Linked DNA regions of Homo sapiens: region 2 is linked to region 1. Evidence: fine-mapped expression QTL. A gene starts in region 1. The other region holds a variant in brackets. All regions are shown on one strand. Distances are from middle to middle. Region 1 holds the start of MAML2 (mastermind like transcriptional coactivator 2). Region 2 overlaps MAML2 (mastermind like transcriptional coactivator 2).

What was found. PIP is the estimated chance that this variant, and not a neighbour inherited with it, causes the effect. A credible set is the group of variants that fine-mapping cannot tell apart.
Region 2: its variant is the best candidate, but not a certain one, in a credible set for the expression of MAML2 in lymphoblastoid cells (GTEx, PIP 0.74).

What each region holds. Positions count from the first base shown.
Region 1 is chr11:96,341,309-96,345,655 of GRCh38, reverse strand. MAML2 (mastermind like transcriptional coactivator 2) reads left to right here and starts at 2,461. Exons shown (of 5, transcript NM_032427.4): 1 at 2,461-4,273. The coding sequence starts at 3,761. It overlaps MIR1260B (microRNA 1260b), which reads right to left and starts at 4,218; the gene lies at 4,130-4,218. RefSeq lists silencers at 2,278-2,467, 3,585-3,844.
Region 2 is chr11:96,248,815-96,253,210 of GRCh38, reverse strand. The region is part of intron 1 of MAML2 (mastermind like transcriptional coactivator 2); the gene reads left to right. Among named protein-coding and RNA genes, the nearest start is that of MIR1260B, 90 kb to the left of the region's middle. The variant A/G (reference allele first, on the strand shown) is at 1,687.

The sequences.
Region 1 (4,347 bases):
ACGCAAATCAAAACCACTATGAGATACCATCTCACACCAGTTAGAATGGCAATCATTAAAAAGTCAGGAAACAACAGGTGCTGGAGAGGATGTGGAGAAATAGGAACACTTTTACACTGTTGGTGGGACTGTAAACTAGTTTAACCATTGTGGAAGTCAGTGTGGCGATTCCTCAGGGATCTAGAACTAGAAATACCATTTGACCCAGCCATCCCATTACTGGGTATATACCCAAAGGACTATAAATTATGCTGCTATAGAGACACATGCACTGGTACGTTTATTGCGGCACTATTCACAATAGTAAAGACTTGGAACCAACCCAAATGTCCAACAATGATAGACTGGATTAAGAAAATGTGGCACATATACACCATGGAATACTATGCAGCCATAAAAATTGATGAGTTCATGTCCTTTGTAGGGACATGGATGAAGCTGGAAACCATCATTCTCAGCAAACTATCACAAGGACGAAGAAACAAACACCGCATGTTCTCACTCATAGGTGGGAATTGAACAATGAGATCACATGGACACAGGAAGGGGAACATCACACTCTGGGGACTGTTGTGGGGTGGGGTGAGGGGGGAGAGATAGCATTAGGAGATATGCCTAATGCTAAATAACGAGTTCATGGGTGCAGCACACCAGCATGGCACATGTATACATATGTAACAAACCTGCACGTTGTGAACATGTACCCTAAAACTTAAAGTATAATAATAATAAAATTTAAAAAAAGAAATAAAAGAAATTATAAAACAAACAAAAAATCTGAGTGTATTTGTCCCCATTTCCAAGCTAACAGGATTGGTGAAAATAAAATGGACTAAAGTAGGCTATCCTATAGGGAACTAAATTGCAAATAAATCCAGTATTGAGATGTTTGCCTTGATTTTGCCTATTTCTATCCATAGCTCAGTTTGAAACGACCATATTCGTGAAATGCCAGAGTTTGTTTAGATTACTGAAGGTATATTATTTGAGACCTCAAATCCAAATGACTTCCAAATTAGGATACCCAGAATATTTTTGGTCCTGACTGTTGCAGTATTATGCTCACCTTAATTTAATCTTCATAATTGAAAATAAGCAGAATCCACAATAAGTTTTTTTTTTTTTTTTGGAGACAGAGACTCACCCTGTTGCCCAGGTTGGAGCGCAGTGGCGTGATCTTAGCTCACTGCGACCTCCGCCTCCTGGGTTCCAGCAATTATCCTGTCTCAGCCTCCCGAGTAGCTGGGATTACAGGCGTATGACACCATGCTCAGCTAATTTTTGTAGTTTTAGCAGAGACGGGGTTTCACCATATTGGCCAGGCTGGTCTTGAACTCTTGAACTCAGGTAATACACCTGCCTTGGCCTCCCAAAGTGCTGGGATTACAGGCGTGAGCCACTGTGCCTGGCCAGGATTGGATATTTTAAAGGTTGGATCACTTGAAAATGGGGGAACAATGATCTGTGTGAGATCTATTTGGTTTCTATTATTAAACTTCTTGAAACTCAGAGCCAGGTGCAGTAGTGGTGAGTACCTGTAGTTCCAGCTACTCAGGAGGCTCAAGTGGGAGGATCACTTGAGCCCAGGAGTTCAACTCCAGCCTGGGCAACATAACAAGACTCCATTAAAAGAAAAAAAAAAAAAAAACTTTTTGAAACTCAGCTGCTACACATTGACTTTCCTCATTGTATATGTGCACCAGGTAGCTAAGGATACTTCAGGTCTTATATTTGGTTTTTCATAGGCAATCATGCATTCCCAAAAAAAAAGCGTTTTTTTCTAGAACTGGTATCGATAATTGTATCATTCTCATAAAATATTTTATTTATCCCAACTGATTTGCCTGTGATCACCCAGACTCACTTATCCAGAGACACACAAATGGGCAGGCAGGTAGACAAACGCTACACCTGCCTGCCCTTTAGGAGCTAACAATGTGATTACCTCTCCTCTCCACGCGCAACCCCTTCCGCCCTCAACACACACATTCATATCTTCCTTATTCTATTAATGAACATTTCCTCGGTGCTCACACAGCTCGTGCTAGGTTGCTCAGTGGTGTCATTTACAATATACTGAAAAATGAAAATGATATCCTCAGCGGGGCGTAATGTAGGGCTGAAAGGGAAAACACATTCCTGGCCCGGAATTTCTTAAACATTTAGAGCTGGTGAAATGGTTGTGTAGAGGTTGGGGAATTTCCCCAGCCTTCCCCGCTTAACCGAGTCTGATGCTGAGCTGAGCCAGGGCAGCTGAGATGCGCAGGGCTTGGGATTTACCTCTTCAGCCACTGGGAGGCCCTCTGCGTTCCCCTTTCCCCGGTGCCTGGCTGCGATTACTCACTCGCGCAGTGGCACCAGCCTTCCACCAGGGAGCCTCGAACGAGCTCTCCCGCCCTCTCCCCGCCCCCCCACCCCCATCTGCAGCTTGCTGGCTCTCTCTTTCTCCTTCTCTGTCTCACTCTCTCTCTTTCTCTCCCTCTCCTATCGGAGCACAATGAAAGCCTGTGTATCGCCGTGACTCCGGGCGCGAGCCAGTGTCAGCAAAGCGGCTAACAACAGACGAGAAAGAGAAAGGAAAATACAAGCTACTTTTTTTTTCCATCTATAAAGCGGAGCAAATACAGGAGATAGAACCAGATTGCTTATTGCGAGTCCAGACCCTCAGATCCACTGGCCGGGGATGGAATGTACAAAAGTGGACAGAAAAGTGGCTGGACATGACTCGGTGCAATTTGCTGGAAGTTTGTAAGTTTGACCATCGTTTGTAAATTACTCTCGGAAGAGTTTGTCTCTCTTGATACTGTATTAGAATAGAGCCGGGGGTGAGGAATAGAAACGTAAGCGGGAAAGAAAAAAATGTGTTGAAGGATCTCTCTCAGTGGCTAGCGACTTAAGATTGCTTTTCATTTAAGGCTAGGAAACCTTAGAGGGAGTGAGGATTTTACCGGTGATTGGATTAGCTGAAGAAAAAAGCATGGTCCAAAAGTCCAATTACTGACATTGTTAACAGTTGAAAAGCTGTCTCCCTCTTTTGGGAGAAGACAACATCCTACAGTACCCCAAAGAGGAGAAAACACCGGAGCGAAAGGAAAGGGAGGAAAAATTAAAAGCCAAAAGACAGTCTCCCTTGATTTTTGCACATTTTGAACAGTGACTTAAACATCTTCTGAAACAGCACTGTTTTGTTTTGTTTTGGTTTTTTATTTAACCTGAGGAAAAGTCAAGGCTGCTGGTTACATAGACATGGTAGAAATGTGTTTCTCTGCAGAAACATCCCCATAAAGAATTGTCGGAAACAACTAGGTGAGGGGGAGTCCTCTCTATTAATACCTCTCTCAATACCTTTTGCTGTGTGTTTCTGTCTCTTGCTGGACAATCCCTGAATTCTTGATCTAACCCCCAGATCGTGTGTTTACAAAGTACCTAGTGGCTCTTGTCAGCTTGGTGGAGGAAAAAAAATCCACCAACTCTGTCCAACTTCTCCAGAGCTGTCAAATGCAATTAGAGTAAGTTAATCAGGGTTTGTTTCCAACTTATCCTCCCCCCAGTTGGTTTCTATTCTTTCTCCCCACCCTCTTTTTACTAACTCCCCTCCCCCACAACTTCTCCACGGCTCCCCCACAACCTCTGAAGACCTCTATTCATGTGGCCCTGAACACTGAGCTCACATTGTCAAAAACAGACTTGCCTGCAATAGCCAGCAGTAGCCTCTTTCCACCTCACCATCCCAGAGGCAGCAATCATTGTGTCCGGTAAGATGGGGGACACAGCGCCCCCGCAGGCCCCCGCAGGAGGGCTAGGGGGGGCCTCTGGGGCGGGGCTCCTTGGAGGGGGCTCAGTCACCCCGAGAGTGCACAGTGCTATCGTGGAGCGCCTCCGGGCTCGGATCGCTGTCTGCCGCCAACACCACCTGAGCTGTGAAGGACGATATGAACGAGGTAGGGCCGAGAGCTCAGACCGGGAAAGAGAAAGCACCTTGCAGCTCCTGAGCCTTGTACAGCATGGCCAGGGGGCAAGGAAAGCTGGCAAACACACCAAGGCCACCGCCACTGCTGCCACCACTACAGCCCCTCCACCGCCCCCTGCTGCCCCTCCTGCGGCCTCCCAAGCAGCAGCAACAGCAGCCCCACCGCCCCCACCAGACTATCACCATCACCACCAGCAGCACCTGCTGAACAGTAGCAATAATGGTGGCAGTGGTGGGATAAACGGAGAGCAGCAGCCGCCCGCTTCAACCCCAGGGGACCAGAGGAACTCAGCCCTGATTGCGGTAAGCACCTGGCTTTCTCATGGTTCTGGCTGTGGTCCTGTGACCTTTTGTGAGGGTAGAGTTTGCTTTGGCCT
Region 2 (4,396 bases), 92 kb after region 1:
AATAAAGGGAAGCTGTGGTGTTGAAGGGTTTTTTTGGCTCCTATTTACATATGATGCAAAATCAATCTGTGTGAATCTCTTTCCTCTGTTGAGCTCTACTATAGGCTCTACTATATGCAGAGCCTTGGGTATTTCTGTGCGAGGGGGATTATGCAAAAGAATTTTAAGGCATGCCACTTGACTTTGTGAAACCAAGTATTTGTTTAAAGAGACACGATATTATAGTGGGAGGCTGTTTTGTGAGAACCCACACTTTCATGTCAGCACCCTGAGATGGGATCCCATTACGCCCTTTAACCAGGCAAGGGACTTTATGCAGTTCTTCGTCAGGAAAATGGAGACAATTAAACTGCTTTTCTCATAGGTTGTTGTGTAAAAGGCAGCAAGATGTGGCTGTGTAAGAACATGACTGAAGCCAGACTGCTTATGCTTAAAACCTAGGTGAGCTGTTTACACCTGATATGACCTTGGACAAGTCTCATCTAACTTCTCTTGCCTCAGGTGCCTCATCTGAAGATAGCAGTGATGTTAGTGTCTGCCTCCTGCCTCATAAGCCTGTCATGTTGAGACCATCCTGGCCAACATGGTGAAACCCCGTCTCTACTAAACATACAAAAATTAGCCAGGCATGGTGACACGCGCCTGTAGTCCCAGCTACTTGGGAGGCTGAGGCAGGAGAATTGTTTGAACCCGGGAGGCAGAAGTTGCAGTGAGCAGAGATCGCTCCACTGCACTCCAGCCTCGTGACAGAGCGAGACTCCAGGTCAAAAAAAAAAAAAAAAAAAGAGTTAGTCAAGGTAAAGCGCTGAGAACAATGCCTTGCACAAAACATCACATAAGGGTTTGCTTTCATTATTGTGAGGATTAGATATAATGCATGTGAAATACTTGACACATGTAGAAGGTAACTATTCACTGTTATTTATATAGAGAACTCAGCAAAATGTGTAGTACATTTTCAGAACTTAATGTTGGTTGACTTCATTTTCTATTGTACATGTCTGTGTGTGTGTGGGGTGTGTGTGTGTGTGTGTGTAGAGAGAGAGAAGCACATATTTCCCAACAGCATAACGAGTGTAATTTTATGGGAAAAAGTATTTAGACCCAATTGGAAATTAGCCAGGCCATACAACCAGGAGTGTCTTTGCTACTCCGTCTGGTGTTGAAAGGGTTTGTATTGACTGGGCGCGGTGGCTCATGCCTGTAATCCCAGCACTTTGGGAGGCTGAGGCGGGCAGATCATGAGGTCAGGAGATCAAGACCATCCTGGCTAACATGGTGAAACCCCGTCTCTACTAAAAATACAAAAAAATTAGCTGTGCGTGGTGGCCGGCGCCTGTAGTCCCAGCTACTCGGGAGGCTGAGGCAGGAGAATGGCGTGAACCTGGGAGGCGGAGGTTGCAGTGAGCCAAGATCGCGTCACTGCACTCCAGCCTGGGTGACAGAGTGAGACTCCGTCTCAAAAAAAAAAAAAAAAGGGTTTGTATTTGTGGGCCTCTTTTTTTCTGTTGATGCTTCTCCAACATTCCACCATGGATGGAACCTCTAACACCTCATAACATGTTTGGAAAATTAAAAGGGATAATCACTGCTTATTATTCCTACTACCATAGAAGGTTAAAACATACCTGTCTTTTGGGCTTAGCTAGAACTCTAAATTTAGTAATCCTACTTACTACTAATAAC[A/G]ATACAGGCAGTTTCCAGAGTTTCCAATTTACTTACATAAGTTCTGTCTTCCAAAATTCAGTTATAAAACAAGAATTTGAATCTCACAATACACTTTCCCATAAAAAATGTTATAAGACATAATTAAAACTCAGGCCTACCTATCTAATTATCCCAATACCTTAGAGAAAAAAAATGGTACCGTAGATCACCAATCATGTGTGATTCATAGCACATGCTGTGAATTCTAGCTACAGAGATATCTGAAACACAGCTACCTCCATGAAAATTCTAGGGATGAGAGGCCTCATGCCTGTACTCTACCATCTTTAGTAAAAGACAACATTTTGCGGGACATGATTTTCACTGGGTAACTTCAGCCTCAGTTTTTGGGCAACATCAATGGCAGAAGAGAATGAGGGATGGCGGGGTGGAAACAGTTATTGTTATGTGTATGTAATTGTAAAGACTACTTTATTGCTAGCGATATAAAATTGCTAAAAACTTTGGCATTTGTTTTATTGCTCCCTCTTCTCCCTCACCCCTTACCATCACTCCACAAATCAACCAAAGCCAATGTCCTAAGGGATACTTTCAGTTGTTTCAATTATAGTTCTTCCTGCAGGTCCTCCAAGTATGAAATTAAGAGGCTTTCAAGATGGAGAAATCCTCTTTTTGCAATATGAAGAAAAGAGTTTGTAATGTCATTATCACCAAATAAGTTACTATTAATCCTGAATCAAGTCGTATTTAATTGTTTTGCCAGTCCAAAAAGCCTCCCTATTTAGTCTGTATGCAAGGACAGCCTGGCAGAGAAATTGAACACTTGTCATTTTAAAATGTGTCTATCACTTAATGCTTTACACAGAAGAGAAGGTGATAGTAGCTTCCTTCATGCTCCAGAGCTGCTGGTGTGACATCAATATATTCATTCATTCAAAATTTACTGAGCTTTCACTATGGACCAAGCACTACTCTTCTAACTGCTAGATATAAAGGGATAGGGAGATATTTATTAAATGATACAAAATTACAGCTAGATAGGAGGAATAAATTCTAGTGTTCTTTAGCACTGTAGGATGACTATAGCAAACAATAATATATTGTTTCAACTAGCTAGAAGGCGGATAGTGTATGTTCCCAACACAAATAAATGATAAATGTTTGAAATGATGGATGTGCTAATTATCTTGATCAGAGCACTATGATTATATGTATTGAAACATCACTATGTACCTCATGAATATGTACATTTTTTTCAATTTAAAAAATAAAATTTTAAGAATAAAAAATTTTTAAATTTTAAACATTTTTTTAAATAAAAAAGAAAAGCAGATAATTTGTCTACCAAGCCTAGATGGATGTATACTCATAAACAGGTAATACTGTAGTGTGCCATAGGGTGATAAGTGCCATGGAGGGGATTAATTTCATGCAGAGCGGGCCTGCAGGAAGTAAAGGAGCGAGCCGTGAAACTGTCTGGATAACGAGTTCTCAGGTAGAGGGAATAGCAAGTGCAAAGTCTCTGAGCGAATTGCAGGGAGGCTCTAGCAGGACCAGAGTAAACTAGGTGGGAGTGATGGGAGATGAGTTCTGAGAGGTAGCAGGAACACCTTGTAGGGCTCTGTAGACCAATACGAAGATTTGGTCTTATTCTAAGTAAGACAGGCAGCAAAGTGTTTTAAGCAGAAGTATAAGAAGATCTAGCTCATTTTTATAGGCTTACTCTGGGTCTACATTGTATGGAGATATGTTGCATAGTTTATTGCATAGTTGCACAAGTTGGAAGTGATGGTTGCTTGGAGCTAGTTACTAGCTACTAGCAAGCTAGTAGCAGTAAAAGTGGGGAAAAGTGTGGATTTTAGATATATTTTAAAGTCAGAGCCAAGAGTAGTGCCAATACGTTGGATGTAGGGTGTCAAAGAAAGAACTGAACCAAGGATCACTCAAAATGTGTGACTCGTGCAGCTAGAACTGCCATTTATTGAGCTGGAGGGATATTGTTGGAGTGTCATTTTTGGTTACTGAGGAAAGAAGAGGCGAGAGAACTGAAGTTTCATTTTGGACATTTTAGTTTGACATGCCTATTAGACATCCAAGCGGAGAGGCCAAGTAGTCAGGGGAATAAGTAAGCTGGAATTCATGCGCAAGGGCTGGCTTAAAAGTGTACATTTATGTATTTAAGGCTAGAAGGCTGAAAGAAAACACCTGGAGCAGAAGTATAGCTAAAGAAAAGAAGAGGCGTTTGAACAGAGTGCTAACACTCCAATATCTAGAGGTCGGAAAGATGAAGTGGAAGCAGAAAGGAGACAGAGGAGAAGTGAGGGAGAGAACATAAGAGAAAATAGTGCCCCAAAAGGCTAGTGAAGAAAGAACTTAAGAAGGAGGAAGAGTTTATTTGTCAGATAAAGAGTTTGTTGTCAAATACTGCCAATAAATTAGTTAAGCTGAAGACTGTAATTGATCACTGAGTCAGGTGAAAGTCATTGGTGACTTTCAATCAGTGGTGTCCTGGTAAACTGGCTCTCTGAAAAGCAGTGACAACAGCAAAATCCTGATTTGTAGTGTTTACTAAATTTCCCTGTGGAAATATTCCCATCATAGTCAATTTCCAGCTACAAACAGTTTAACAACCAGCTTGCAAAGTTCTTGAATATTTAACAATTAGCTTCTGCTAGTTGCGCCACACACCACCTTAACAGGAGCCATTTTGTAGGAGTGGTGGAGATTG